Linked DNA regions of Homo sapiens: all the other regions are reported to be linked to region 1. Evidence: microRNA targets listed by miRTarBase, many of them from high-throughput screens and not tested one by one. Region 1 holds a microRNA gene; each other region holds the end of a gene's coding sequence.

Region 1 (4,068 bases):
GCGCATGGACATTTTCCCAGAAAGGGACAGAGACGGCGAAGTTTGACGGTCTGGAAAGCAGAGACCAGCAGGGCTGACTGCTTGGGAGGTAAGTTCTGGGGACATGGTACAGGGTGAGGAGCAGGTATCAGTGCTAGTTGCGACCCCTCTGTGTCTCCCCCCCGCCACCCCATTGCCATTCTGAAGCTCCCCAGGAAGAAGCTAGGAGGGGAAATAAATTGAGTGGGGGTGGGGTTTCCCAAGAATCGGAGGAACCGAGAACGAAGAGGGGTGGGGGAACGGGGAAAGAGAGAGGAAAATCAAGTTTTCTTCAGCACGAGGGACAGCTCTCCACCGACCGAAGGAGGAGAATGCTATTTATTTCAGCACCAAATATCCGGACAGCGCCTCTCGGGAGGTCCGAGAAGAGAACCGCGATCTGTTTCAGCACCGGGGCTCAGGACAGTTCCCAGCGGGCTCCGTTTCGTCTCCAGAACCCTGGACAGCTCCTCCAGGTAACGGGAGAGCCCTTTGACCCTGATTTTGCAGGGGGAGGACGAGAGAGGGTGGTCTGAGGTGCCTGGCATTTCTGGAGACCTGCACCTCATGTAATGGATTTTTAAACAAAGTATTTTCCAGATAAGCACACACAGAAGTCTGCAATTTTCTTTTTTTTTCGAGACGGAGTCTTGCTCTGTCGCCCAGGCTGGAGTGCAGTGGCACGATCTCGGCTCACTGCAACCTCTGCCTCCTGGGTTCAAGGGATTCTCCTGCCTCAGCCTCCCGAGTATCTGGGATTACAGGCACATGCCACCACTCCCGGCTAATTTTTGTATTCTTAGTAGAGACGGGGTTTCACCATGTTGGCCAGGCTGGTCTCAAACTCTTGACCTCTTCATCCGTCCACCTCAGCCTCCCAAAGTGCTAGGATTACAGGCGTGAGTCACTGCGCCTGGCCCAAGTCCGGAATTTTCAACAGGTAAGATACCTCACTGGGGTAACAGCTGCCTGCTAAGATGACATTATGGTGTCTCTTCCAGACTTCGGTGAGAAACCTTGTGCCAAGCATTTTACATACATCATATCATGCCATCTTCAACCCTAGGACATGGGTGTTACTGTGCCCATGTGACATTTGGGGAACCCAAGGCCCTGAGAAAGGCAGAAAAATAACCCACGCAGGGACTCTCAGCCCACAAGTGAAGCTGTAAGTCAACCCCACCAGTCCAACTCCAAATCCCATGTCTCTGACGTGCCTGGGTGGGAGGTGGGCCCTTGGAGATCAGACCCTGCTTCTCTCCAGGAGAACCGGGAATGGAAAACAGGGAGGCAGCACAGAGGCAGGAAACTCAGGTGTCATAGCTTGGCTCAGGTGAGAAGGAGGAGCTGGGCAGGGGTCTCAGACATGGGGCAGAGGGTGGTGAAGAAGATTAGAGTGGCTGTGGTCTAGTGCTGTGTGGAAGACTAGTGATTTTGTTGTTCTGATGTACTACGACAACAAGTCACAGCCGGCCTCATAGCGCAGACTCCCTTCGACCTTCGCCTTCAATGGGCTGGCCAGTGGGGGAGAACCGGGGAGGTCGGGGAAGAATCGCTTCCACTCGGAGTGGGGGGGCTGGCTCACTCCAGGCGATACAGGCACAGGCAAAGGAGGGAAGCAAACAAGGACATACATCCTGTGCTCATACAGCCATGCACCATGTATGGGGTTTGTCACATCACTCGTACGCCCCCACAAGCCTGGAGATAGAACATACCTGACTCTAAACCCAAGACCTCTAACCACCTTATGGCGCTTTCCTGGGAGACCCAATGAGGGAATGACATTTAAAGCCCTCCCTAGACCAGAGTTCTCAGGGTACTTTTCTATTAAAAAAAAAATTATTATTTTTTTGGCCGGGTGGCTCACGCCTGTCATCCCAGCACTTTGGGAGGCCAAGGCAGGTGGACCACTTGAGGCCAGGAGTTCAAGACCAGCCTGGACAACATGGTGAAACTCCATTTCTCCTAAAAATACAAAAATTAGCTGGGCGTTGTGGCACACACCTGTAGTCCCAGCTACTCGGGAGGCTGAGGCATGGGAATCCCTTGAACCCAGGAGGCAGAGGCTGCATGACCCAAGATTGCACCACTGCACTCCAGCCTGGGCAACAGAGAGAGATTCTGTCTCAAAAAACATTTTTTTTTTCTTTTTTGTAAAGACATGGTCTCCTGCCTCAGCCTCTCAAAGTGCCAAGATTACAGGTGTGAGCCACCGAACCCAGCCTAAGGATACTTTTCAATAAAAGTTCCAGAAGTGGGCTGGGTGTGGGAGCTCATACCTGTAATCCTAACATTTTGGGAGGATGAGATGGGAGGATTGCTTGAGTACAGGAGTTTGAGACCAGCCTGGGCAATATAGTGAGACCCCGTGAGTTGACACATGCCTGTAGTCCCAACTACTTAGGAGGTGGGAGGAACACTTGAGCCTGGGAGATCAAGGCTGCAGTGAGCCATGACTGCACCACTGCACTCCAGACTGGGCAACAGAACAACACCCTGTTTCAAAAAAAAAGTTTCAGAAAAGATTCCTTTCCTGTCTGCTACCCATCAGTGTCATGGGCCAATCATAGGACAAGTGTGAACTTGTGCCCAGTGGTGACTTATGACATCATAAAGGCTCACCACCTTTGCCAGACATGGTGGCTCACACTTGTAATCCCAGCACTTTGGGAGGCCAAGGTGGGAGGATAGCTTGAGCTCAGGAGTTCGAGACCAGCCTGGGCAACATAGCAAGACCTCATCTCAGTAAAAAATAATAAATAAATAAATAAATATATAAGACTCACTCCCAATTCTCTGCAACACCCTAATCAAGTGAAAAACTGCACATGGTTACCTGTTCTCCAGCCTCAGGGCTTTTGCCTCTGCTGTTCCTGCAGCTTGGAATGCACTCCCTCCACCTCCAACCAGAGCTCCCCACAACTGACCCTGCCTTCTTCTGCAAGCTCCATTTCATCAAGGGAAACGATCCTTATTGCCTCACCATTTCCCACGTGAAGTCTGTATTGACATTCTCATAGACCTGGGATATTGTGTCTGCAGCACATAGTCCAATTATTTTCATGTTATCTACTGACAGGTCTATTTGTCTCCCTGTTACACTGTGAGCTCCGTGAGGGCAGAAACAATGTTAGTATTTTCACTGCTGTGTCCCCAGCGCCTGGTCCGGGGCCCGGCACACAGCAGGCATATAATAAGCATGTGTTGAATCAATAAAGGCATCAAAGAATAAACCAATACATCAATCAATAAATGAATGAATGGCCTCAGCACACACAGGAAGATCCTTCTTCTAGGTCTCCCCCAGAGAGATACTGGAGGGCAATGGTTGCTGGAGGTGTTTATTGGGGAAGCATAATTGAATTTGTGGACACTTAAGGGCCGGCCAGCCAACTCACAGCCCCAAGAGAGAGAGCCAGGCTCATTTAATTAGCAATTACAAGGCACTGATTCCTCATTAGCTCTGGCAACCCTCGTCTCCCTCCTCAGCCCCAGACAAATGAAATCTTTCTCTCTCTCCCAGGAGTACTGCCTCAGTGGGTCCATTAACAAGCAGAGAAAATGAGATTAGAAGACACCTAAATGCCAGAGGCACTTTATGAATGGGCTGAGCAGAGGGAGGTTCAATGTCTGGGTTAGGTCTAATTGTGGGAGGTTTCCTGGTCTATTTAGAATTGCCCCCTGGGAATGCAAGGTCTTTCAGAAAGGAAAAGGCACACAGATATTGCCTTCTGGGGTCCTCAATGGAGGAGGACATTCTGCTATGGGTGTCTCCCAGTCACCCCAAATTAATCATTTCAAAGTGAACACTCAATCTGCCCAGCCCCTAGCTTCCTCCCCTGACATGCCCATGAATATGACAGTCCCTCTACATGCCCAAGATCCTCCCCTCCTCATCCACTCCCCATGATCCCCAAGATGAGTCACTGTGCTCAAATCCATCCTCTCTCCTCCAGCCCTCTGCCTCCATGACCTCCCTCCAGCCCTCTGCCTCCATGACCTCCGCCTCCCTGCATGTCCGGATCTCCTCACTGTCTCCCCTCTGAG
Region 2 (4,068 bases), not on the chromosome of region 1:
CCCAGCACTTTGGGAGGCTGAGGCAGGCGGATCACCTAAGGTAAGGAGTTTGAGACCAGCCTGGCCAACGTAGTGAAACCCTGTCTACTAAAAATACAAAAAATTAGCCAGGTGTGGTGGCAGGTGCCTGCAGCTACTCCGGAGGCTGAGCTACAAGCATCGCTTGAACCTGAGAAGTGGAGGCTGCAGTAATCCTAGATCGCACCATTGCATTCCAGCCTGGGCGACAGAGTGAGACTCAGTCTCAAAAAACAAACAAACAAACAAACAAACAAACAAAAAAAGGCCAGACGTGGTGGCTCACACCTGTAATCCTAGCACTTTTGGAGGCCAAGGCGGGCAGATTGCCTGAGCTCAGGAGTTCGAGACCAGACGGTGAAATCCCGTCTCTACTAAAAATACAAAAAAAAATTAGCCAGATGTGGCAGCGTGCGCCTGTATTCCCAGCTACTTGGGAGGCTGAGGCAGGAGAATTGCTTGAACCCGGGAGGCGGAGGCTGCAGTGAGCCAAGATCGCGCCACCGCACTCCACCCTGGGTGACAGAGAGAGACTGTCTCCAAAAAAAAAAAAAATGTATCTGACCTCCTTTGTTTTGCTGGTAGGTTGTAAGACCCCATTCCAGGAAGGGTTCTTTCCCCTATCCAGAAGGAAAGAATCCAGACAGGCCTCGCTGGGCTTCCCCACTCAGTCTATGAGCATTAGATCATGCCCTTCTTGTCCAGTCCTATTTCTACTCAGCTGTGCATATTTTGTTGAGCCTAAGCATAAAAATAGTTTTCCCTGTAACTTTGGGTCTTAATTCTGAAGGTTCCTTTGTCATGTAAAAGCATGACCGAATAAATTTGTATCACTTTCCTCCTATTAATCTGCCTATTTTCAGTTGAATTTTTAGAGAAACCTGAGAGCAAAGGGGAAGTTTTCCCTTACACTCCCTTACATTCCACTTGGACTTTTGAAATCAACTTCTGTTACCTTCCTTTCTGTATCACTGAAACTCCTACCTTGATTTATGTTCCCTTCTTAGCATTTACCATTATCTCTTTCTCGCCACACACACACAAACACACACACACACACACAAAACTTATTAGGTTCATCTCTGCCACCAAAATGTAAAACCCACACTAATAGGGTCTTTTCTCTATCTTCTTTATCCCAAGGACTATCACTGTAGCACACAGCAATCACTCAAATATTTGTGGGATTGATAAATGGGAATACAACTCATGCAGACTGCAGTCATCTCAAATTAAGTAAAAGACAACAGCCTGAAGCCACATTTTCAGTGAAATGATCATCACATTCTCAAAACACCTTTGACAACTTTTATAAAATGGGACTTCGGCTAGGCACGGTGGCTCATGTCTGCAATCCCAACACTTTGGGAGGCTGAGGCAGGAGGATCACTTGAGCCCAGGAGAATGAGGCCAGCCTGGGCAACATACAGGAGACTCTGCCTCTACAAAAATAATTTTTTAATTAGCTAGGCGTGGTGGTGCATGCCTGTGGTCCCAGCTACTCGGGAGGCTGAGATGAGAGGATCACTTGAGAGGTTAAGGCTCCAGTGAGCCATGTTTGTGCCACTGCACTCCAGTCCAGGTAACAAAGCAAGACCCTGTCTTTAAAAAACAAAAAATGTAGTCCCAGCTACTTGGAGAGCTGAGGTGGTAGGATCACTTGAGCCCGGGAGGTTGAGGCTTCAGTGAGCAGAGATCAAGCCAACCTGGGAACAGAGTGAGATCCTGTCTCCAAAAAAAGAAAAGGTGGGAGACTTCACAGACAGTTCTGAAAGCAAAGGCACAGGGAAATTACATATCTGTGTGTGTCTTCTGGGCTCTACTACCTACTAGTTTTCTGACCTTAAGACCCTTTCCAAGCCTGTTTTCCTCCTCACTTCCAAAATGGTTTTACCCAAGGTAATGGCAGTTTTGAAGCATGAATAAGACAGACCAAGTAAAGTGCTTAGTACTAGATCGAGACATTACACAGTACTCAAGAAATGGTAGCTACTTTTATTACCAGCAGGCCGTTAGTTTCACAGAGGAAGAACAGTTTCTACAGGTGGTGATCTAGTCTCCGGTTCCACCTTTCACTCTTTTCTGTGGCCTTGGGCAAATCATTTAATCTGTCTTTGAAGCTATTTCCCACATTCATAAACTACGTGGGCAAGTGAAAATAATTCAACCCTTTTTTCCCAAATAGAAAAATACTTAAGATTTTAGCACTGATCCATCAGAGAAGCCACACTGGAAAACCTACGCAGAAACTAAAACTTGGTACCATTCACTATCCTCAAGTTTATAGAATTAAAAAGTAACAGACGTAATAGGTATAAATACTCAGAAAACATGAACATGTCTCATGTCAAATAAGAACAGAAAGTTGGTGTGTAAAAAATGTGGATTAGCTGTCAATATATAAAACACAGAATACTGTTTTTAAAAAGAATTGTTTATTTACCGAACCTGGGGCATATTAGATACAACCAATTTTAAATTTACATCTTTTAAATCAGTTTTGAAGTGTTTCACACACACAAAAAACTTGGCATGCAACAGTTGTCCTAAGGTGAAAGTCACCTCATTAATAAACTGTTGCAAGTGTTCTCACCCAAGGTGGAAGTATGGTTTATCCTGAACATGAAAACCTGTAACAAATTTAAATTAATTATATAAAACTCGTTACTTGTAGTTTTGCCCTTGCAAAGATCCAAAAAAAAAAAAAAAAGCACAAGTAACTAATATGTATCAGTCACAACATAATCCTGGATCATCCCCATACCAAAACCGGATGCTCTTTTAATTTTAAACCCATCATCAGAGAACAAGAGAAAGTAATTTCATTTTACACAAAACAAGATTCACATGTGCCAAAAAAGAAAGACCCAAAAGAAACAAAAACCAAAACCCTAATGCTGACACTGATGGTCAGTACCCTGAACAGTGGCCCAAAGGCCACTGATCAAAAATAAAATAGTGGCTGTATATCAATGAAATGAAATCCAAGAAGCTTTAACCCTTTGGCATCAGAAATCCAGATTTTTCCAATTATGTAAATGCTTATTTCTTACATGCCAAGAGTGGGAGAAGTGAATGTGCCAATGTGGAAAGAAAAAAAGCCACCACTCACTGGGACACCCAGAGAATTGGCTTTAACAGACAATTAGGGGGTTAGGCAGAAACCCAGAAATGGTTATTAGCTGCTTGTGTCATCAATTTAAGTGGAGATGACTGAGTCCTAAGGTACAATGTAAAAATGTATGTGGGAAAATGTATGCTGAGTCGTAGTTTTAAAGCAAAACAAGAAAACAAAGTATGAAAGTACCCAGCCTGGCAGCATACACCCAAGTCAGAGAGCTCTGCCATTAGGACGGGCAGAAACCGTCAAGATTCATACTGCTGTTTCTCATAAGGACTCAACAAAAATGAATCTTTAGTGACTTGAACCATAGACTGAAGGAATCCAAAGAATGCAGTCATTTTAGTAAAGTACTATCAGGCTTTGTGCTGATTTCCTGAACAAACTGCATTATATTATGAAAACAAAAGGAAAAGAAGAAATAATAAAAACTATACTCCCATATTTCACTTACAGTGTTTGAGTTCCTGGAAGGACCTATATAATGGAGGCAGCATTCAAACAAGAAATTATGCCAATCAACTGTCAAATTTTCACTATAATTTTCCTAAAAAGGCGTTTTTCCCCCAATATCTATTAATCTCAAAGAAACATAAGTTGTGAATGTACAGTTCAGAAAATAAAAATGGAGAAACTAATGACATTATTATGACCAAGGTGTTTGGTAAACAGTGAATTCTGAGTTGGGATCATCAGGAAGAGGCTTTTTAAACAACTCTCCGGACTTCAAAAAATCTCTTCAGGTAGTAGATCTGTCCCAATGTCATGGCAACTAGAACAAGAGCTTCAAAGAAGGACCAAAGGACCACTCTGCTGTTTGTGTTGTCGTTGACTGTTGAGGACAAAACAAACAAACAAAATTTAACAATTCTCCCCCAAAAAGACATAGGCATCATAAATATTTTAGTCTTCACTCTGTGTGAAAGTAA
Region 3 (4,068 bases), not on the chromosome of region 1:
CCTAGCTGAGACTACAGGTGTGTGCCACCACGCCCAGCTAGTCTTTGTATTTTTATTAGAGATAGGATTTCCCCATATTGACCAGGGTGATCTCAAATCCTGACCTCAAGTGATCCACCCGCCTCAGCCTCCCAAAGTGCTGGGATTACAAGCATGAGCTACTGCACCTGGCCAGTTACTTGGTTTTATCTCCTGCTGGAGACTGGCCTAGCTGTAGAATTTCAGAACTGAAAAAGACCAGAGATCCCCTGGTCCCACCGTCTGCTTGCTAGCCTACTGCTGACTGGCTTGCCTTGGCTGGCCCAGGTAGTAAGCAGTGGCGCCGAGCCTTGCTTGTCACCACGGTGCTAGGAAATCCAGTTGACTGTCATCTTCCGTGAGGGCTAAGCTTTCAGGGCTCTCGTTTCGAAAGCATTGCCTCTTTGATCCCCTTATTTTCTTTCTCCTGTGTTTCACCACCGGTTCTCATTTGGCCTGTCCGGTGGGAACGGGCTGCTGGCTGCATTTGGTCCTCAGGGGATTGTGCAGCAAATGGCTCAGGTCTCCCAGCACCCTGTGCAGGTCTCTTCCCAGACACCACAATGACCCTCAGGTTTTGTTCTTCCAGGTTGATCCAATGCTCACCCCAGAAGAGCGTCACCTGAACAAGATGCAGAACCATGGCTATGAGAACCCCACCTACAAATACCTGGAGCAGATGCAGATTTAGGTGGCAGGGAGCGCGGCAGCCCTGGCGGAGGGATGCAGGTGGGCCGGAAGATCCCACGATTCCGATCGACTGCCAAGCAGCAGCCGCTGCCAGGGGCTGCGTCTGACATCCTGACCTCCTGGACTGTAGGACTATATAAAGTACTACTGTAGAACTGCAATTTCCATTCTTTTAAATGGGTGAAAAATGGTAATATAACAATATATGATATATAAACCTTAAATGAAAAAAATGATCTATTGCAGATATTTGATGTAGTTTTCTTTTTTAAATTAATCAGAAACCCCACTTCCATTGTATTGTCTGACACATGCTCTCAATATATAATAAATGGGAAATGTCGATTTTCAATAATAGACTTATATGCAGGCTGTCGTTCCGGTTATGTTGTGTAAGTCAACTCTTCAGCCTCATTCACTGTCCTGGCTTTTATTTAAAGAAAAAAAAGGCAGTATTCCCTTTTTAAATGAGCTTTCAGGAAGTTGCTGAGAAATGGGGTGGAATAGGGAACTGTAATGGCCACTGAAGCACGTGAGAGACCCTCGCAAAATGATGTGAAAGGACCAGTTTCTTGAAGTCCAGTGTTTCCACGGCTGGATACCTGTGTGTCTCCATAAAAGTCCTGTCACCAAGGACGTTAAAGGCATTTTATTCCAGCGTCTTCTAGAGAGCTTAGTGTATACAGATGAGGGTGTCCGCTGCTGCTTTCCTTCGGAATCCAGTGCTTCCACAGAGATTAGCCTGTAGCTTATATTTGACATTCTTCACTGTCTGTTGTTTACCTACCGTAGCTTTTTACCGTTCACTTCCCCTTCCAACTATGTCCAGATGTGCAGGCTCCTCCTCTCTGGACTTTCTCCAAAGGCACTGACCCTCGGCCTCTACTTTGTCCCCTCACCTCCACCCCCTCCTGTCACCGGCCTTGTGACATTCACTCAGAGAAGACCACACCAAGGAGGCGGCCGCTGGCCCAGGAGAGAACACGGGGAGGTTTGTTTGTGTGAAAGGAAAGTAGTCCAGGCTGTCCCTGAAACTGAGTCTGTGGACACTGTGGAAAGCTTTGAACAATTGTGTTTTCGTCACAGGAGTCTTTGTAATGCTTGTACAGTTGATGTCGATGCTCACTGCTTCTGCTTTTTCTTTCTTTTTATTTTAAATCTGAAGGTTCTGGTAACCTGTGGTGTATTTTTATTTTCCTGTGACTGTTTTTGTTTTGTTTTTTTCCTTTTTCCTCCCCTTTGACCCTATTCATGTCTCTACCCACTATGCACAGATTAAACTTCACCTACAAACTCCTTAATATGATCTGTGGAGAATGTACACAGTTTAAACACATCAATAAATACTTTAACTTCCACCGAGACTGCTCGTTTCACTGACTGCGGCATTGATCTGCGTGATGGTCCTACCCCCTTCCTCCAGGAGGGTGATAACTTCGTTCCACGAAGGACCCCAGCTGCACCTCACAGGCGGAAATACGTCTGCTCAAGCTGTGACTCAAGGCTTCCAGCGCCGTTTCGCATTTAGAAAGCAAAGTAAGAGGGAACATCTGCACAGAGCATTTGTCTGGCAAAATTTAGGCTACTGATATTTATTAATATGAGACTTCTTAATGCTACTGGGAACAATGAGTAGGGCTTGTGGCTGAATTTTCAGAGGAATGCTTGCAGCTTCCATTTGCTTAAATAACCTGACACTGGGAGGCCCTGTCACCTCACTGATGGGGGTGTTTGGTTTGTTGCCTTGGCAACTGCTTAGAGGGCTTTCTGCCTGGGCCCAGTTTTATCTACTGAGCTAAGATCTTTTTAATGCCCAGCTACAGGGAAGAGGGTCAATTCAGGGGTAAATCTCAGTCCCTACCCTAGTTTAATGCCAGTTTAAATATACAGAGTAGTTATCAAGGTAATGTCATATATAGCTGTGTGTAGATGTACATGTGTGTACATACGTGACGAATCTTCCCTAGGATACTGGACTAGGGAGTGTTTTATGAGCCAGGAAAGCATTTTGTGAGCCAGGTGAACAGGTTGGTTCTTTATAATGATTACCACTTCCCCATCAGCCTCTCCCTTCTGCCTGCATTGGTCACTGAAGTTGCTGCCAGGAAAGCCCTGAAGAAGAGGGAACTTTTTTGTTTTTTGAAACCAGTTTCTGCTGGAGTGCTCTGAAGAGTGTTATCACCTGACCCTCTGTAGTATCAGCTGGAAACTGATCTCAGGGTCATTCTGATTTCAAAGCTAACAGACCAGCTTCATTGATTTTAGTGCCTGCCATGTACTAGCTGCCTCCAAGTCAGAGGCGCATTTTTGTCTTTTTTTCTTTTTTTTTGAGACAGAGTCTGTTGCCCAGGCTGGAGTGCAGGGGCGCGATCTCAGCTCACTGCAACCTCTGCCTCATAGGTTCAAGCAATTCTGTCTCAGCCTCCCGAGTAGCTGGGACTACAGGCGTGCACCACCATGCCTGGCTAATTTTTTTTTGTATTTTTGGTAGAGACAGGGTTTCACCACGTTGGCCAGGCTGGTCTCGAACTCCTGACCTCATGATCCACTCGCCTCGGCCTCTCAATGTGCTGGGATTACAGGCGTGAGCCACCATGCCCAGCTCCATTTAGTCTTAACCTTTTGAGGCATTCCCCTCTTCCAGAAATGACGCTGAGGTCTTCCACGGAGCAGTAAGGGGTGGAGCAGAGATGCAAACCCAGCTCGGTGGGAGTTCTTCCTTTATTCAGTGTACTTCAGTCCTGGGGGAGGCAGGGGCGGGGGCATGGCAGCCAATACCCATCCAGCTGCTCAGCTCTCGAGTCTCTTACCTGTTACTCACATTCCTGTTGCTGATGGGTTAGAGAGGAGTTTGGGGCTGGTGAAAGTGCAGTGGTTTCTATTTACACGTTCATTACCCAAATGGGGTCATTGCAGAGACAGTCGGGGTTAGCTGAGAACTGGGGAGGCCTGAGAGATGACGTGGAAATGAATGAGAGGCAGGGCTGCCAGGCGGCCTCACCCTAGGCAGGCTCCACTCTGCTCCCTGGTGGCTCACCCACCTCCCGGGAACTGAGAGAAGCTCCTGGTTTCTGCCTTGGTGACTCAGCCTTGACCTCTGGGGAATGTGGCCCTGCCCACCTTGCGGCCAGCCTCAGGTGCTGGTGCTGACAGGTGCGAAGGTCCTCCTACCTGCCTGTCTGCTTTCAGTTGCAAATCAGAGCTCAGCAGCTGAGGTTTGAGCCAGGACATCAGATGCCCTGATCTCTGGTTTCTGTTGCTGTGACAACTGACAAAGCTCTTTAGGAGGTACAGATGAGGATGTAATGAGTCCCTAAGTTTTGGAGAGGCCCAAGGGTCCACTATCATAGGAGCAGGTGA
Region 4 (4,068 bases), not on the chromosome of region 1:
ATCTGATTTCTCTAAATAGTTGCCTGCTGGACCCTGAAATGTCTCCAGAGTAAAATTATACCATATCTCTGATTAATGTGTTCAGTATCTTACAATCTACTAATATTTCACAGAAATTTACTCTGTTATGTGAAAGGATGACTTTTTACAAGAAAATTTGATTCCAGGTAGATTGATACAGTTTAATAAAACCTCTAGGTGGGGTCCTAAGTGTCTTAAATTGTAGTTCAGGGTGATTTTTTTCCTTTATAATTCCTGAAAAGAACAATAGTTTAAGAAGCAAAGCATGAATAAGCTCTGTTAGAAACCTGAAATATTAATTCTGAAATATTTATATATATATGAAGCAAATGGTCCTATGCTAGATATAAGCTCCTCATTTTGAAACTAGAGTATCCCAAAGTTTTCTGGACTGAAAATAATTTTAATATCTTTTACTAAGTACTTAGTTTTCTGGGTTTGAGTATGCATGCTTAAGATTATGCTCAAGGGACAGAAAGTGTATGAAAAAAATTTTAAGCATTAGTCCATAAACAATGTATTTTAAGCCTGAAAATCTGCTTATTTAGAGATAGAAAATGATGTGTTCTCTTTTTTTTTTAATGTGGATGAAGAGCAAGCAACTCAGTCCCAAACTACAGTTCTTGTTGTGACCAGTGGAACTGTGAAGTTTGATGGAAACAAACAACATTTCTTCAACCAGAACTTCCTGCTGACTGCTCAGTCCACTCCCAACAATACTGTGTGGAAGATTGCAAGTGATTGCTTCCGTTTTCAAGATTGGTCTAGTAGTTAAAGGGGCAAAAGTCCATTCTCATTTGGTCCATTAGTTCCAGCAATTGAAATTTATGTGAATTATTTTGATTGTAGAAGCACTATAATATGTGCTGAAACTAAATTTCTTTAATATTTTCTATTCCTGTCAGCACCTTTTCTAGCAGCTGCCAGTTTGGAGCATTGCCCTCTAAGAGCTTTAAAACTATTTTTTTACATGCCTTATATACATTCCACTAATGACATTCTTATAATAATATTAAACACATGATCTTGGTACTAACATACTCACTGTGAACCCAGCCTATTGCAAAAATAAAATCTTTTTATAATATTATCTATGGGATGTCAGCACAATATAACACTCTGGGAAGAAGTGGAGTTTTTTGGTTATTAGGTTAATTTTCTAGTAAAACACGTTGCCTGTTTTCAGTTAACACTGGTAATGCCATTTTAATATATGGCTTTTTCAAATCAGTTCAGTGAAAATAGTACAGATTTAGGTTTACATAACTACTCTGACATACTGGAATTGCATATAGAGATGTTCAGTGGTCGTTTTTCATTTTAAGTAATTTTTGTTTTGGCATTTTTTTGTGTGAAGTAAATTAATCAACTAGAGAGGTGCAAAACGTTCTCAGTTGATATCTGAGTATTGGGTGCATTTGGTGGCTTAAAAGCAAAGCTTCCTAAAAAGATTTTTCTTGGCAGCTCCAGGTCTATACATTTAGGTAATGAATGGTAGTAGAACTAATAGCTTTAACAGGAGAATAGGGAATGAGAAATAGAAATCCAAGGCTGAAGCCAAAAGTAAGGAGGGTGGCCAAATGGTAAACTATTGGTACTTGTTTTCTACCTCCTAAAAATGTAGCTTATTTTTAGGATTTAAATCACTAAGTAAATAAGTATCCTTGCCAAGTGATCATGAGTGTCATTTTTGTTCTAAGACTAATATTTTTAGATCTTTTTACTTCACCTCATACTTATCACCAATGTATATCTCCATTTATTCAATAACTTACTGGGGTAAAATAACAGCAATAAACCTAACCTTTTAACAGGGTCTAACATGAGAGTTGGAGTCAAAGCCATTGTTATCTTTTGGTGACACCCTTAAATTTTAAGTCTTCCAGTCTTCCATGTGAACTTTAGGCCCAAAGTTTCTTATGTATCACACATCCCCCAAATAAGTGATTTTTTCCCAGTGCTTTGTACTGTCAACTGCATTATCTTTAATTATTTAAAGGTAGAATTATTTAATTTTGTGATTTGTTCTTCCATATGACATTGAGCAAATAGATCTGTTTCAAAATATGTTCCCGCTATGTGGATAACTCTTCTTTTTAAAAAGAAAATAGAGAATAGCAAATCTTCATGATAATCCTCAAAAGAACAAAATGCTTAACTTTATCTCTTAATTTCTAAAGGTAAATAACCTAGGTTCAGCTTTTGCTTAAACATTAAATATCTTTTCCATTTTTTAATGTTTGTAAGCTAGATATGCCAGCTTTGTTTCTACATTGCAACCAAAAACTGTTTCTTTTCACTTAATTATAAAACCAGTAATTCATTTACTCTTGCCCAAAACTATACACTGTATTTCTGTTATAGTAACAAAATAGAGTTATGTAGAATTGTATGGAACTCAAATTTAAACCATGCTTTCTTGTAGTACTGATTGAAACTTACACGTTTTATTCTACTCATAGTGAGCTTATTCTTATTTTGGATTGATTTTCCAAAACCACAGCTTCAGCAGCAACAATCAGAATGTCCAAATGCTGTCCTTTCCCTTACAGAGAAGAACAATGGTAACTAAAAGCTGCATATAACTAGCAATAACTACATTGAACGGTGTGCATTGTTCATGATTGTTGTGTTTTAAGACTTGTATATAAACTGCTTTTTCCAAACTCTGTATAACTTTTAAATGGCTGGAACTACTCGTATAAGGACTAGACTGTATTTTTGACATGCTCCTATTTTTGTAACTTGAAAAAATAAAATTTTGCCTTGTGACAGATTTTCTCAAGATTGTTTTAAGGTCTTTTGATTTTTGTTCTTAGGTTTCAGAATGGTTACTTGTTTCTTTACAATATAAGGTTTTTTAAATTTAGAAAAAAATTACAGTAGTGTGTTGACAACAATGGTTAACAACTTGGATCTTCTTTTGGTTCTTTCTGTAACCTGCCACATCTGTCTCCTTTTCCTGCCAATTATTCACATTCCTGAGATCATCACTTGTTTGAGATACCTGTAGGTTTTTGGTGAGAAGTTGGAAATCTTAACCTTGAGAAACCAGCTAAAATGCTATATTCGATAGGCAGTGAAACCAAAATACAGTTGATTTCCAGAAAGAATGGTTCATTAAATTTAATTCTACATTAAAAATATGTCAACACTACTGGGTAAATAACGAAATGAAGGCAGAAATAAAGATGTTCTTTGAAACCAATGAGAACAAAGACACAACATACCAGAATCTCTGGGACACATTTGAAGCAGTGTGTAGAGGGAAATTTATAGCACTAAATGCCCACAAGAGAAAGCAGAAAAGATCGAAAATCGACACCCTAACATCACAATTAAAAAAACTAGAGAAGCAAGAGCAAACACATTCAAAAGCTAGCAGAAGGCAAGAAATAACTAACATCAGAGCAGAACTGAAGGAGATAGAGACACACACACACAAAAAAAAACCCTTCAAAAAATCAATGAATCCAGGAGCTGGTTTTTTGAAAAGATCAACAAAATAGATAGAGTACTAGTAAGACTAATAAAGAAGAAACCCCTGTGGGAGGCAATTAATTCAAAGAGAACTACAAACCACTGCTCAACGAAATAAAAGAGGACACAAACAAATGGAAGAACATTCCATGCTCATGGATAGGAAGAATCAATATTGTGAAAATGGCCATACTGCCCAAGGTAATTTATAGATTCAATGCCATCCCCATCAAGCTACCAAGAACTTTCTTCACAGAATTGGAAAACACTGCTTTAAAGTTCATATGGAGCTAAAAAAAGAGCCTGCATTGCCAAGACAATCCTAAGCAAAAAGAATAAAGCTGGAGGCATCATGCTACCTGACTTCAAACTATACTACAAGGCTACAGTAACCAAAACAGCATGGTACTGGTACCAAAACAGAGACATAGACCAATGGAACAGAATAGAGCCCTCAGAAATAATAACACACATCTACAACCATCTGATCTTTGACAAACCTGACAAAAACAAGAAATGGGGAAAGGATTCCCTACTGGTGCTGGGAAAACTGACTAGCCATATGTA
Region 5 (4,068 bases), not on the chromosome of region 1:
TCAACTTCAAGCTCCGCGTCGGCTTCAACCATGGGCCCCTCACGGCCGGGGTCATCGGCACCACCAAGCTGCTGTACGACATCTGGGGAGACACCGTCAACATCGCCAGCAGGATGGACACCACCGGCGTGGAGTGCCGCATCCAGGTGAGCGAAGAGAGCTACCGCGTCTTGAGCAAGATGGGCTATGACTTCGACTACAGAGGGACCGTGAATGTCAAGGGGAAAGGCCAGATGAAGACCTACCTGTACCCAAAGTGCACGGATCACAGGGTCATCCCACAGCACCAGCTGTCCATCTCCCCAGACATCCGCGTCCAGGTGGATGGCAGCATCGGACGGTCTCCCACAGACGAGATTGCCAACCTGGTGCCTTCTGTCCAGTATGTGGACAAGACATCTCTGGGTTCTGACAGCAGCACGCAGGCCAAGGATGCCCACCTGTCCCCCAAGAGACCGTGGAAGGAGCCCGTCAAAGCCGAAGAAAGGGGTCGATTTGGCAAAGCCATAGAGAAAGACGACTGTGACGAAACAGGAATAGAAGAAGCCAACGAACTCACCAAGCTCAACGTTTCAAAGAGTGTGTGAGGCGGCGCCCACCCGCTGCCCGAGGTGCTCTGTTTGTCGAAACACAGTAATATTTGTATTTGGCTGTTGTGCTTTCCAAGCGCCACAGTTGCCCTCCCCGGACGTGGTGTTATGTGGTCATTTCAGCCCTAACTTCTGTGTGGATCACAGTTATTCAGGGTTCATTTTCATCCATTCTTCCCTTTCGCTCCCTTCCCTGGAAACCCCGCTGCCTCTGGGTCATCCGTTCAGCACGTGGTGGAGAACAAGTGCCTTCAGGGCTGGCCTCGGCCTCGAGTCTCGGGACAGAGGCCGCCAGTGGAGATCATGGCTTTGGGTATTATTTGACTTTTAGAACAAAAGCTGTGGTTAAGATCTCATTTTTATTGCTTTTTCCCACGTCCCACGAGACACTATTTTCGGTTCTCTGGCTAATACCCTGTTTTTGAGTTTATTTTGTTTCTGTCTATGTCACAGTGTTCCTCTACGACCCGACCTCTCTATGTAAGCACACATGCGCACACACACTTGCATTCATGAATCTGATATAAAGTGCCAGTAATCCGCCAAGAGGGGGTGCGAAGGGGGCATGTCACGACAGCTCCGCCACCCCCCATTGCCCACCCGCACTTTCCCGAGCACCGCGCCCCGTGGGCTGTGGGTGAGCCGCGCTCCCTGCACTGAGCGGGTTTAGGGGCTCGCCCACATGCATGCAGGCCAAGACAGCAAATGCCAGCCGGGCACGACGCCCGTGTGCCCAGGCCTCGGGGGTCTCAGAGCCGCCTCTCACCCCCGACCCTCCACCCAGGGGTCTCCCCATCGGGAGTGGAGGTGTTGGTCCTGGAAGCTGACTCATCGGAGAGGGAAATACCAAATAAACATCCGAGGTTGCATTTATTTATTTATTTATTTACCCGGAAGCATGTGCGCTCCCGGGAGGGGTGCTGGGTCCTCAGGGTGGGGGGTCATAGCCACAGGGGAGGGCAGTTCCCAGGAAGGTAACCAGATGTCTCTTTTGTGTTTTGGCCACCTGGGGCCGCCCCCAACCTCCCCACCCCAAGAGGGGTCTGAGTGGGACCTCAAAGCATGGCCAGTGCAATTCTGAGGCTAGGGGAATAGGAGAAGCCCACCAGCTGCCCCTGCCACCCACGGGGGCTCCTCCCTGCCGGGGTCCAGCTCAGAACCACGGGGGTCTGTGCCGGCAGCACCGGTGCCATCTTGGCTTCCACAAATTCCAGAAGTTTCTTGGCTGCCTCCCGCTCTCAGATGGCACAGGGCCTATCAGTGGCAGGATTTAATCTGGGGAGCAAATTCCAGCTCTGAAATGGAGTTCTCACACCGTATCTAGGGACAGAGGCATCTGGATGCAAACGCGGGGTTTGTTAGGGGCGGAATCCCGAGGGTGGTGTGGGGGAGCTCCGTCCGGGCAGTTGGCTGCTGGTCCTGTCTGATTATGTTTTGCCATATTGAGTCTGAAGTTTGTGTGGAAGTGAGCTCGCCCGAGTTGTCCGGTCGGAGTTGTAGCCAGTCTTTCAGGGGACCCCGGGACGCTGATGAGGCCCAGGGTGCACTCCTTGTCAGTCTTGCCCGTTGTCCCTGTGCATTTTGCTTTCCGCTGTCAAATCTCACTGTCTCGTTTTCACACCGCATCAGTCCCCATCATCACTACTCCTCCCCAGAGACATACAGATTGCCCTCCCCGGCATGAAGAAGTCACAATTCTGACCCGCCACCTCTCCAGGGGCGGTGCCTGGGATGGCCACCCATCAGGACAGCCAGAGCCAGGGTCCCGGCGTCCTGAGAGTCCAGGGCACCTCCCCCCATTAGCTGTAAGGTTTCCTGTCAGGTGTGACTGTCAGTTTGCTGGTCTTCCAATACCGAAGAAAGGGTGGTTGTGACAATACCTCTTGCTTCTAAAGAATGTATTATAAAACACCGCAGATTTTTTTTTTTCCTTAAAAAACACTACCTGATGCTTTCCTTGTTCGTGGGGATTGTGGTCACATGAAGCTCTTTCTGCATCAGTATTAAGGTGTATATTTGAATGTCCTCCCCTCCCCTTTCCCCTCCAGGCTGTGTAGCTTTGAGGGGCTGGGCGTTTGCTCACGACCTTGCTGTCTCGCTCAGAACATGCTCCGCAAAGTTCTCCGCACACACTTCTTCCCCATCAAGCCCATTTCCTTCCCCAACCACAAAGGTGTTTGTGATTCCTCACCCCGGGAAACCAAGGAGCTGCAAAGTGGAGTCTGGTTCAGCCCCGTGCAGACTCACCCAGAGCTTAACGTTGTCTTTCAAACACCCTGAGCCTTCCTAAACAGCCAGTGCAGACGTTCTCTCTGGGCCACGAAGCCCCTCGGGTCCTCCCCGTCCCCTGCTCCGATGCATACCTCAGTGCAGAACCACAGAATCTCTGCAGCGGAAACGCCGTGCATCTCTTGTCTGTTGGCAGCGAGCACATCGTGCTGGAGACACGAGTTTCTAAGCAGCTGGCACGAGGGCTGCTGACGGCATGGGTCGTGCTTCAGGGTGGCAATACCTCTTAGGAACTTAGGGCAGGAAGCAATACTTCAGCATTGAATGTGTGTAAATAGTTGCTTTGAGTTGCAATTGCTATTTTCTTCTCAGTCCCAGCTCAGATCGAATTATATATCCATATATATATATATATATATATATATATATATATATATATATATATGGTAAACAAGCACACACAATTTTATCCAATGCAAACAAATGTAGAGCATCAGTTACAAAACCCTCGAATAGCTTGAGAGCCCCACAGGCTCTGCCACACCCGTGACTTCATCCACACTGACGTCACCCGCGGGGGCTCCCCCTGCACATTTGCACACGATCCGGAGAGCCGAAGGCCGCGTGCTTCCTGTCACATGGGCTGTAATCATTTGTAGTTTCCAAAGACACGTCTGCATTTGAATTTCTAGATTTTCGAGGTAAGGAGTTTTTTTTAATTGGTTGTTTGGAAAATCACATCATGCCTAGAATCTGAAATTGAATTAGCAAGAACCGACTGTTTGCATTTTCCATATATCCTTTTATCTGCTCTTTTTAAATTGTTAATTCTAATAATTTCAAAATGCATTCACTGAAGAAATGGACATTAAAATATTCTAAAATTTAAATATATGATGCCTGGTGTTTTCTTATTGAAAAGATGAGCACTGCTTCAGAGAGGAGGGCGGTCTTCCTTGGACAGCTCGTGTTTTCTGCGATCTGTGGCTCACCTGGGTGGGTTTGCCTTTCTTTCACGTCATGACTTCAGAAACAGGGCAAGTAGAAAACCCTGTTTGTGTTTATGTTATTTTTTTAATTGGATCTATTTGCTCCAGTTAACTTGAGTTGAAAAGTATTTATTTTTACACAGAATTTTTTAAACAATAAAAGTAAGGTTGCAGGACAAGTTTTGCTTGTGAGATTTTCCCTGTCAGGCCTCCTAAATAGTTTTCTGCAACATCCTTAGAGAAGGAATTGAGGGGGAAAA
Region 6 (4,068 bases), not on the chromosome of region 1:
CACTGCGCCCAGTCAGGAGATGTTCTTTGTAGGAAAGCTTCTGAAAAACTCCAAACCCATAATCAAAAAAACATGGAGCGAGAAAGGGCCTTAGGGTAATCATCAGGTAGGTTAATTTAAAAGTTCATTTGAAACGTCTGAACCAGCCAGATTCCCCTCCGACACAACACTCAGATTGGCTGGCAGTAGCCACTTTTGCCTCTAAGATGAAACTCTGATAATTGTTCATTAAAGAAAGCGAAGGCCTGGCGAGGTGGCTCACACTTGTCATCTTAACACTTTGGGAGGCTGAGGCAGGAGGATTGCCTGAAGCCAGTAGATAGAGACCAGCCTGGGCAATATAGTGGGATCCTGTCTCTACAGAAAATACAAAAATTAGCTGGGTGTGGTGGCAAGTGCCTGTAGTCCCAGGTAGTTCGTAAGCTGAAGTAGGAGAATCCCTTGAGCCTGGGAGATCGAAGCTGCAGTGAGCTGAAATTGCAGAACTGCACTCCAACCTGGGAGACAGAGTGCGATCCTGTCTCAAAAAAAATAAAAAAATAAAAAATAAAATATAAAAAAACACAGACATAAAAAAGTAATGCATCACTGGGCGCACTAGCTCACGCATGTAATCCCAGCACTTTGGGACGCTGAGGCCATCAGATCACGAGGCCAGAAGATCAACCTGGCTGACACAGTGAAACCCCGTTTCTACTAAAAATATAAAAAATTAGTTGGGAATGGTGGCACGCGCCTGTGTTCCCAGCGACTCTGGAGATTGAGGCAGGAGAATCGCTTGAACCTGGTAGGCAGAGGTTGCAGGGAGCCGACATCTCACCACTGCATTCCAGCCTGGACAACAGAGCGAGACTCTGTCTCAAAAAAAAAAAAAAGTAATGTATCAGGACTTGGTGTATCTTCGGCACTTCACAGTAATAATGAAGGAAAGAAACACATTTGTGGAGAGGGGACCATGTTCACTCTTTATCTATCCATGATAGACAGTCGGGAGCTTTATATACCCAAGAAACCTAAGGAAAAATGTTCCCTGTCATGACTCACACTCTTCCAGTCACCCTTCCTGGCACCTGTCTTGTGGGCTGGGGGACCCAACTTATGGATCCCATCATCCCAGGGAGAAAGAAAAACCAAATCCTTCAGTATCTCTTTTTGGGTATCCTCTCCTCTGTTTGCATGGAGGATAAGGCACCTGATATCTAGTAGCCGAATGTTACATTTGTGTAATACAGAACTATATTGGGATAAAATAGAATTTGTTTCCTCTGAGACACAGGTAGAGGCACGTCCACACTGACCTGGGGGGCAGCCACCTCTTCCTGCAGTGCCAGGCAGGGCGTGCTCACAGATCTGGGGAACCTCTGTTGCTCCTGGAGCCCCACAACCTCCTTCCTGGCACCCTCTCCCTCTGGTGGCTGTGACAGCCCACACTTGGTCTTGGGTATCCCCTGCTTCTTTGCCTGCCCCTCTTCTCCCTACGCTGCACATCTCTGTCTCCCACTGTCCCACTATGTCCACGATTGCCTCTTCCTCCCTGCACTCTCCATCTCTAAGGGTTCCTTGTCTTGGAAAATGAACCCACAGCCTCTACCTTGTGACGGGACAGAACCCGGGACTTGTTCAGTTCTCCCTTCCTCCACCACACACACCTGTCCTCCTTAATGTTTCTGAAGTCAGTGAGCTCCAAACTCAGCTCCTCCTGCACCTGCCAGCTGTAGGACCTGTGACAAGACGCCTACCATCTCTCTGGGACTCCGTCTCTCATCTGTCATATAGGCATAATGATCATAGTGTGCTCCTTCTAAGGCTGGGAGAACCAGGAGGCCAAGGTGATGGGCTATGGACGGTCAAAACAGCTCCAATCCTGCCTCCACCTGGGGCTGGTGTTTCAAGTCCATGGTGTGTGAATGGAGCTTTGATGTCTCCATTCACACACAATGCTTTGTGCTAAAATAGACTCCCCTCTGCCCTTCCCTTCCCCACAACTGTTTCCCCTCTGCACCGTGCATTGGTACCTGTGAGAAAGAACTGTCCCATTCCCAAATCATCGTCCCCACCCCAGCCCCCAGGCCCTTGGGTGGTGAGACCCTTGATGGGCAGTCTCATGCTTCTGTCCAGGGGACCTTCCCACCGTTGCTCCCCTGCATGGAGACTAAGTGGACTCTTCTATTCCCTGGCCATCACAGGGTCTACAGTGCACGCATCTTCCTCATTCCTCCATGTTCCCCAGATGACGATTTCATCTGTGTCTCTTCCCACATACTCCCAAATGGACCATCCCAGCCCTAGAACCCGAAAATTGTTCAGAGAGCGAAGGCCAAATTGCCCAACCACCTGCTGCAGAATCCTGCTCCAGGACTGAAGTGTATAGTCCCTATCAAAATAAAAACTGGAGGCCAGGCGCGGTGGCTCATGCCTGTAATCCTAGTACTTTAGGAGGCCAAGGTGGGAGGATCGCTTGAGCCCAGCAGTTCAAGGCTGCATTGAGCTATGATCGTGCCACTGCACTCCAGCCTGGACAGAGCAAGACCCCATCTCCAGAAGAAACAAACAAACAAAGAAACAAAGAAAGCCAACAACTGGAAACATCCTCCTCTAGAATGGTGGTCAGGAACATCTCCCCGTCTTGTTCCCTGATGTCTCTCCAGCACCTAGAACAGCGCTCAGCACGAGGACACACTCATTAGGGTTTTGTTGAATAAATGACTCCTTTGACATGGCAATTCCACTTCTAAGAATCTTTCTAAAGAAATATTCACACATGTGCACAAAGCTGTGTGCACAATAATGAGAGGAACAAACAACTGGGGAACGTTTGCAAAGGTTTATTAACTGTCAGTGACTGATACAGGGGAATCGGATGAGGGGAGTACATGCTGAACAGGAAACAGAGTGAGGGGGGCTTGACCAGGACGCATGGCAATGGGAAAAGCAGATGGGAGATGCTTATACTGGTACTTGGTGTGTGTGTGTGCGTGTGTGTGTGTGTGTGTGTGTAAATGCAGAGGAAAAAGTCTGAAATTAAACACTCAGAACTGCCCTCAGTAGTCACATCTGGGGAGAGATGAGGATAGTGCTGTTCTATGGAGAGAATACCTGACAATACTTGTTTTCTGACGTAGGTGCATGGATACACAAACCGAAATATGCATTCAGTATGTCTTGCTCATCAATTATAAGGATAGTATCTAACAGAATGGCACACTGTAAGAAAATACAATGGAAACACTAACATCGAACTCTTGGCACACTAAGAAAAATGACGCTCAAGTTTCACCGTTGTGAACACTTGCTTTCACTTGCTATGCACCTGATGACGAGGGAGCCGCAGCCATGCCCATGTTCGTGAAAGGTCACCACGTTCTGCTTCTCATCAAGGGCATGTGTCGTATCCCCCAGGCTGAGGCGAGAAGAGGGAAGGAAAGTAAGTGACAGCGAGTTCCCACTGCCCAATAACTCAACCTCAACTCCTCCTGACCTGCAGACCCTGCACACTCTGATTCTGCCCTACCCCAGGACCTGGACACGCCTTCCATGGTTCCTCGAAGTGAACCATCTGCTCATGCCACAGTGACTTCCTCGCCTGGTTTATGCATTCCTAGGCTAGAAGAAGGTGTGGCCACATATCAGGGCTGACCTGGGGTTTGGGAACCCACAGCATCCTGGGTGGTGAGGATCCCTGGATATACAGGGTAGGGAGTAGAAAGAGCATGGGAAATCTCATCATTCAGCCTCAATGCTGTACAGTAGAAAATTATGAGAAAGGAATGATTTGGGAAACAAATGACAAGATGGGATACCAGTACCATAACAGAATAGCACATCTGCAGGGATGTGGAGGGTGAGCCGAAGGTTCACTTACGGAGTTACTCGTCATCTTCCTCAGGGTCACTGATCTCTTCATAAATCACCAGCTGCTTTCTCTCACGCAGTCTGTGGGTCCAGGCATGTTTCCCCCTTTTGGGTCCTATGATGGAGAAGAGTTGGAAGATGAGGGTTGGGTACGTTGAAGAGTGTTAGGCTCTGTTTTCTCAAAAAAAGGAGATGCCTCCTCCCTCCCAAGTGCCC
Region 7 (4,068 bases), not on the chromosome of region 1:
CCATGTGAAGGGATTGCTTTATTGAGTTTGATTGTTGAGGTGGTGACAAGAGCTGTACCTAAAACAGATGGATAAGGCCCTAAAGGTTTTATTGTATTCCTTTCTGTGTTAAATAGCAGATATGGACAACTTCTTTGAACTTTCATTATGGTACTCATTTTCCTTGACCATGTGTATTAATTGCCAGATGAGGAACTCTTTCTTTTGGGCAAATAAGGTCATAAAGATAAGTTGTGACAATTAAATGGCCCCATTTATTTTATCAGTATGTTTGGAAGCTAAGTTGGGCATGATAAGATGTACACAGCCTCTTCTTCTTTAGAGTCCAAAGAGGTGACTTTTGATATCTAAGATTATATGGAAATATTAAGGCAGAAAATGATGCAACTATATTCTTAAAATCAAATATTTTTTATATTCCATTGGTTGTAACTATTCAATATATTATTTTGATTTTAAAAATTCAAAGCTTGCCATATATAGGTGGATAGTATTCAGTTATGAAATCATTAGGATTCCCCTCTCCACCTATGGTTGCTAGCAAAATAATGCCCAAGTCTGTTTTAAAAGCCTACTGAAAAAAAAAAATTTAATGAAATAACAGCAAATAGGAATTGTGATTCCTCTTTCTATAAAATGTAAATGTTAAAATCCCCAAATACCTCTATGACAGCAATATTCAGGAAATAATATTTTATAGTAAACATTTTTAATAAACAGCAGCATAAAATAATCAGTGTTTAATATCATCTCTGGTGTGTGAAATACAAATGCATATATCCTTAATATAAAATAGCCTTTTTGTCATTACAATTCAATGCTTGCCTATTTGAAATGCCCATAATAACAAATCAAACATTAAGTAATACAGTGATTAAATGCATGCAGTGAAAATAAGGAAAGATATGGTAAGGTGAGATATCTGAAAATTGCCATTATATATTTGAAGAAAATCTATATCAAGTTAAAAACAAAGGAAACAAGAAAAACAGACCAGATATAAAAATGCAAAGATATATTTTCACTTCTGTGACACAAACCATAAGCATAGTTTTGTGCAAAAAAGGAGAAAAAGATCTGAAAATAAAGTCATCTTACAAAACATTGTCAACAAAGGAAAAGATATTTTTCAGCTTGTGAAAAAAATACTATTTTAATACAAAAGAGACTGTGTTATATAGTATCACAGTGCGATTATAAAATACATTATTACAAGTGGTTTTGAAATTTCATTTGCTCACTTTAATGTTTTCAGTTATTATAAAATGTTTAAAATAAATGTTATAGTTCTTTATAAAAAACTAACTTGAATTTACTTTTTAACCATAATAATGTTTTACCAGAGTAGGTATTTTACTGGCTCATGGAATGCTAATTTCCCTTTAAGGGACTCCTAGAAAAACTCAAGATTCACTGAAATTGTGTACTTAAAATAATAAATATTCTTGGAAAACAATTGATTGTCATATGATATACAAAATTGTGGTTTGAAGCTTCATCATTAAACAGTTGCATAGCAACAAAAGGATACAAATATTCTCCTCTACCTAAAGTTAAGAAATGTAACTTCTGAATCAGCTTATTTATGCCACAAAAATATGTTTTAATTTATCTCCCAGAAATCTGGATATAACCAATTCTTCTAGTTCACAGTACCTATAAGTTCATGTTTGTTATTTGAAGACTCAGGTTTGGGAAAATTGCAATGCATTTTGGTAAACATATTTTCTTGATTTCTCATGCTAGTTGTATTTTTTAAAAATGAAAACATCAATGTGTTTTTCATTCTCTTACATTCTCCTCATCAAATATCATTTCCAGGAATTACTTTTATATCCCGTAAGTCTCTTTAGAAGTCTCTTATACCTTTAAAGTAAAAATGAGACTTTGAGACATTGTTCTTAGAATAAAGGAGTTTTTTTTTAACAAGAGAAAAATCAAAAGTAAAATTACTTTCTATATAGAACTTGAAACGCATAAGAATTCTAAACTTGGCAAAAGATGGTCGGCAGGTAAATGCCATGAGCTGCACATTTGAAACCTCCCACTAAGGCAAAAATGGTCATGTTACTTCGGTTTGCTAGTTTAAAGAATTCAGTTCTTGGTAACTTTTGAAATGAGAACTCAGTACTTGTTTTTTAGGAAGACCATCATATTTTGCAAAATAGAATTAATTGCCTTTGGATTCCAACTGACTGTATGAATACATTGTTGTAATTCTTGGGGCGGGAATCAAATCTGTGAACATTTCCAGCACAGAAAAAAAGGGAAAGAAACTTTAAAATTACTAGACATTTGTATCATGATGGAGTTTCCTACTTCCCTAGAGCCCATTGACCATAAGCACTCCAATGCCTCGGACAACTTGTAAACAGGGAGTTGCAAGGGGTGGGCGTGCTCATCTGTAGCCACACACTTATTTTTCAGTGTTACTGGTTCCAGAAAACTCCTATGGGGGCTGTCCCCATGGGAACCCTTTTTCCTTTCCCACAGATGCTGATCTAGGCTGTGGGGCCATTTTCCTGGCTGTGCTTCCTTTGGCGCCTCATTCCTAATCCAGCAAAGAGAACTATCAACCAACAATCAATTCTAGCATCCACATCTAGCCTTCTTATGGTCTGATGCGCTGTGTTATTCCAAGGGCAGTGTAAACACACTGTGAGAAACTGTGGGAAAGACCCTCATGATCAGAGGAGGATTCACAAAAAGGCACACTCTACACCTTCCCAAAGAAGCACAACGACATAAAAGGCTTCAGGGCTTGTTATACTTCCCTTATGGCTCATTTCCCTCCAGGGTTTCAAATTTGGCCTGAAGTTTCTTCATGGATTCTGAACATCATTTCCATAAGAACATGCACAGAGTCTAAATTCAATCAATATAATTCCTGAACATCTGTCCTGAAGAAAAGACAGCAGGTAGACAAATGCTATGGTATATATACATCTGGGGGAGAGACCAGTCATGGTGACTGAAGGCTAAAACACAAAGCACCATTTGACTTTTGGTTTTATATTTAATCACAAGGTTCTTTTCCTCTTCACTGGTTTGCAGCTTTCAGTGCTCGAAACCACATGTTCCAATCCCAATGCCATGTCATGCACTCCAATGGAGTGCACATCCCACAATGTTTTTGTTTGCTTGTTTTTTTTTTTTTTTTTTTTTTCTGGCCGAGTGTCTGTCCTGCTTGGTAAGACACAGTGAAACTTCACAGAAGGTACTTGTTGCGATGTCTGCTAAATGAGAACCTTACTTTAATAAAAACATTTGAATATAAATCTTTTCTACGGCCGTCTAGTTTGTCCTGTATACCACATTTACAAAAGTTGTGCATTTTACAGTTCTGCAGAAATCATAGATTCGGTGTGTCCATGAATATTGGCGTCTCCTAGTAAAGATGCTTGCTTTGAGTCAATTTTGTAGGGTTTTTGAGATTTGTTGCCAAAAACGGTGATACCCATTCCACCAGGATGATTTGGAATTGACATGTGTGGTAGTAAAGGAATATTTGCTTCCTGATTGGATCCTGATGAGGGCAAGCTAGTCACATGGCCAGTGCTAGTCGACCCACTGGCACTGCTTGGGGACCGACTCTTGGGAGGTGGGCAGTGCTGAATCACTCTGGGAGGACCTGTTGGCTGGTAGTGGGCAGCTGGAAACGCTGCATATCCAGGAGGTATTGGGTATCCATTGATGGGAATGAATCGCTGGTTCTGAGGTATTGGCGGGCCAATGAAACCAGCAATCTGGCCCTGTGGTGTAATACCCTGGCTCGGGAACATGTAATTAGGATATCTGGGGTTACTGAGATTACTCACTGGGCTGGCACTGAGGGAGGTTGTCTGTGTGGTGGCATTTCCCCCTGAAGGAGTAGTAGAGCTTGTGTGACTTGAGAGTCCCTCCCAGGACCGAAGCCGGACGTGAATATCTTTAAATCTTGGTCTCCTAGAAGGAATCTCATTCCAGCACTCTGTCATGAGGCTGTACATTCTGGGTGGGCAGTCTTCAGAGCATGGTAAGAGCTGCCGTTTTCTCACCATCTCAATCACTTCCTGGTTACTGAATCCA

Evidence for each region. The annotated mature microRNA hsa-miR-7-5p reads UGGAAGACUAGUGAUUUUGUUGUU and lies in region 1 at 1,437-1,460, shown strand. An mRNA with a match to its seed (bases 2 to 7 or 8) in the 3' UTR can be bound and repressed. Matches are read on the target gene's strand: a 7mer-m8 pairs with bases 2 to 8, a 7mer-A1 pairs with bases 2 to 7 and ends in A, and an 8mer does both.
Region 2: the mRNA of TMED2 is a reported target of hsa-miR-7-5p. The part of its 3' UTR that is shown has no 7-base or 8-base seed match.
Region 3: miRTarBase lists APLP2 as a target of hsa-miR-7-5p. The part of its 3' UTR that is shown has no 7-base or 8-base seed match.
Region 4: miRTarBase lists NXT2 as a target of hsa-miR-7-5p. Seed matches in the 3' UTR shown: 8mer at 1,899-1,906, 8mer at 1,907-1,914 and 7mer-A1 at 2,048-2,054.
Region 5: miRTarBase lists ADCY9 as a target of hsa-miR-7-5p. Seed matches in the 3' UTR shown: 8mer at 2,433-2,440.
Region 6: the mRNA of SSX1 is a reported target of hsa-miR-7-5p. The part of its 3' UTR that is shown has no 7-base or 8-base seed match.
Region 7: miRTarBase lists ROR1 as a target of hsa-miR-7-5p. Seed matches in the 3' UTR shown: 7mer-m8 at 2,142-2,148.

What each region holds. Positions count from the first base shown.
Region 1 is chr19:4,769,264-4,773,331 of GRCh38, forward strand. It overlaps MIR7-3 (microRNA 7-3), which reads left to right and starts at 1,407; the gene lies at 1,407-1,516. It overlaps MIR7-3HG (MIR7-3 host gene), which reads left to right. Exons shown (of 3, transcript NR_027148.1): 1 at 1-88; 2 at 367-494; 3 at 2,901-3,293. RefSeq lists a silencer at 274-568.
Region 2 is chr12:123,596,508-123,600,575 of GRCh38, reverse strand. It overlaps TMED2 (transmembrane p24 trafficking protein 2), which reads right to left. Exons shown (of 4, transcript NM_006815.4): 4 at 1,994-3,971. The coding sequence ends at 3,847. Among named protein-coding and RNA genes, the nearest start is that of DDX55, 3.6 kb to the left of the region's middle.
Region 3 is chr11:130,142,740-130,146,807 of GRCh38, forward strand. It overlaps APLP2 (amyloid beta precursor like protein 2), which reads left to right. Exons shown (of 17, transcript NM_001142276.2): 17 at 608-2,066. The coding sequence ends at 709. Among named protein-coding and RNA genes, the nearest start is that of ST14, 15 kb to the right of the region's middle. RefSeq lists a silencer at 2,755-3,049 and an enhancer at 3,120-4,068.
Region 4 is chrX:109,541,893-109,545,960 of GRCh38, forward strand. NXT2 (nuclear transport factor 2 like export factor 2) reads left to right here. Exons shown (of 4, transcript NM_001242617.2): 4 at 615-2,806. The coding sequence ends at 796. Among named protein-coding and RNA genes, the nearest start is that of NXT2, 7.1 kb to the left of the region's middle.
Region 5 is chr16:3,962,294-3,966,361 of GRCh38, reverse strand. It overlaps ADCY9 (adenylate cyclase 9), which reads left to right. Exons shown (of 11, transcript NM_001116.4): 11 at 1-3,709. The coding sequence ends at 587. Among named protein-coding and RNA genes, the nearest start is that of TRIDDENT, 14 kb to the right of the region's middle.
Region 6 is chrX:48,266,186-48,270,253 of GRCh38, reverse strand. SSX1 (SSX family member 1) reads right to left here. Exons shown (of 8, transcript NM_005635.4): 7 at 3,863-3,967; 8 at 2,810-3,400. The coding sequence ends at 3,867. Among named protein-coding and RNA genes, the nearest start is that of SSX1, 13 kb to the right of the region's middle.
Region 7 is chr1:64,178,123-64,182,190 of GRCh38, reverse strand. It overlaps ROR1 (receptor tyrosine kinase like orphan receptor 1), which reads right to left. Exons shown (of 9, transcript NM_005012.4): 9 at 693-4,068. The coding sequence ends at 3,336. Among named protein-coding and RNA genes, the nearest start is that of UBE2U, 23 kb to the left of the region's middle.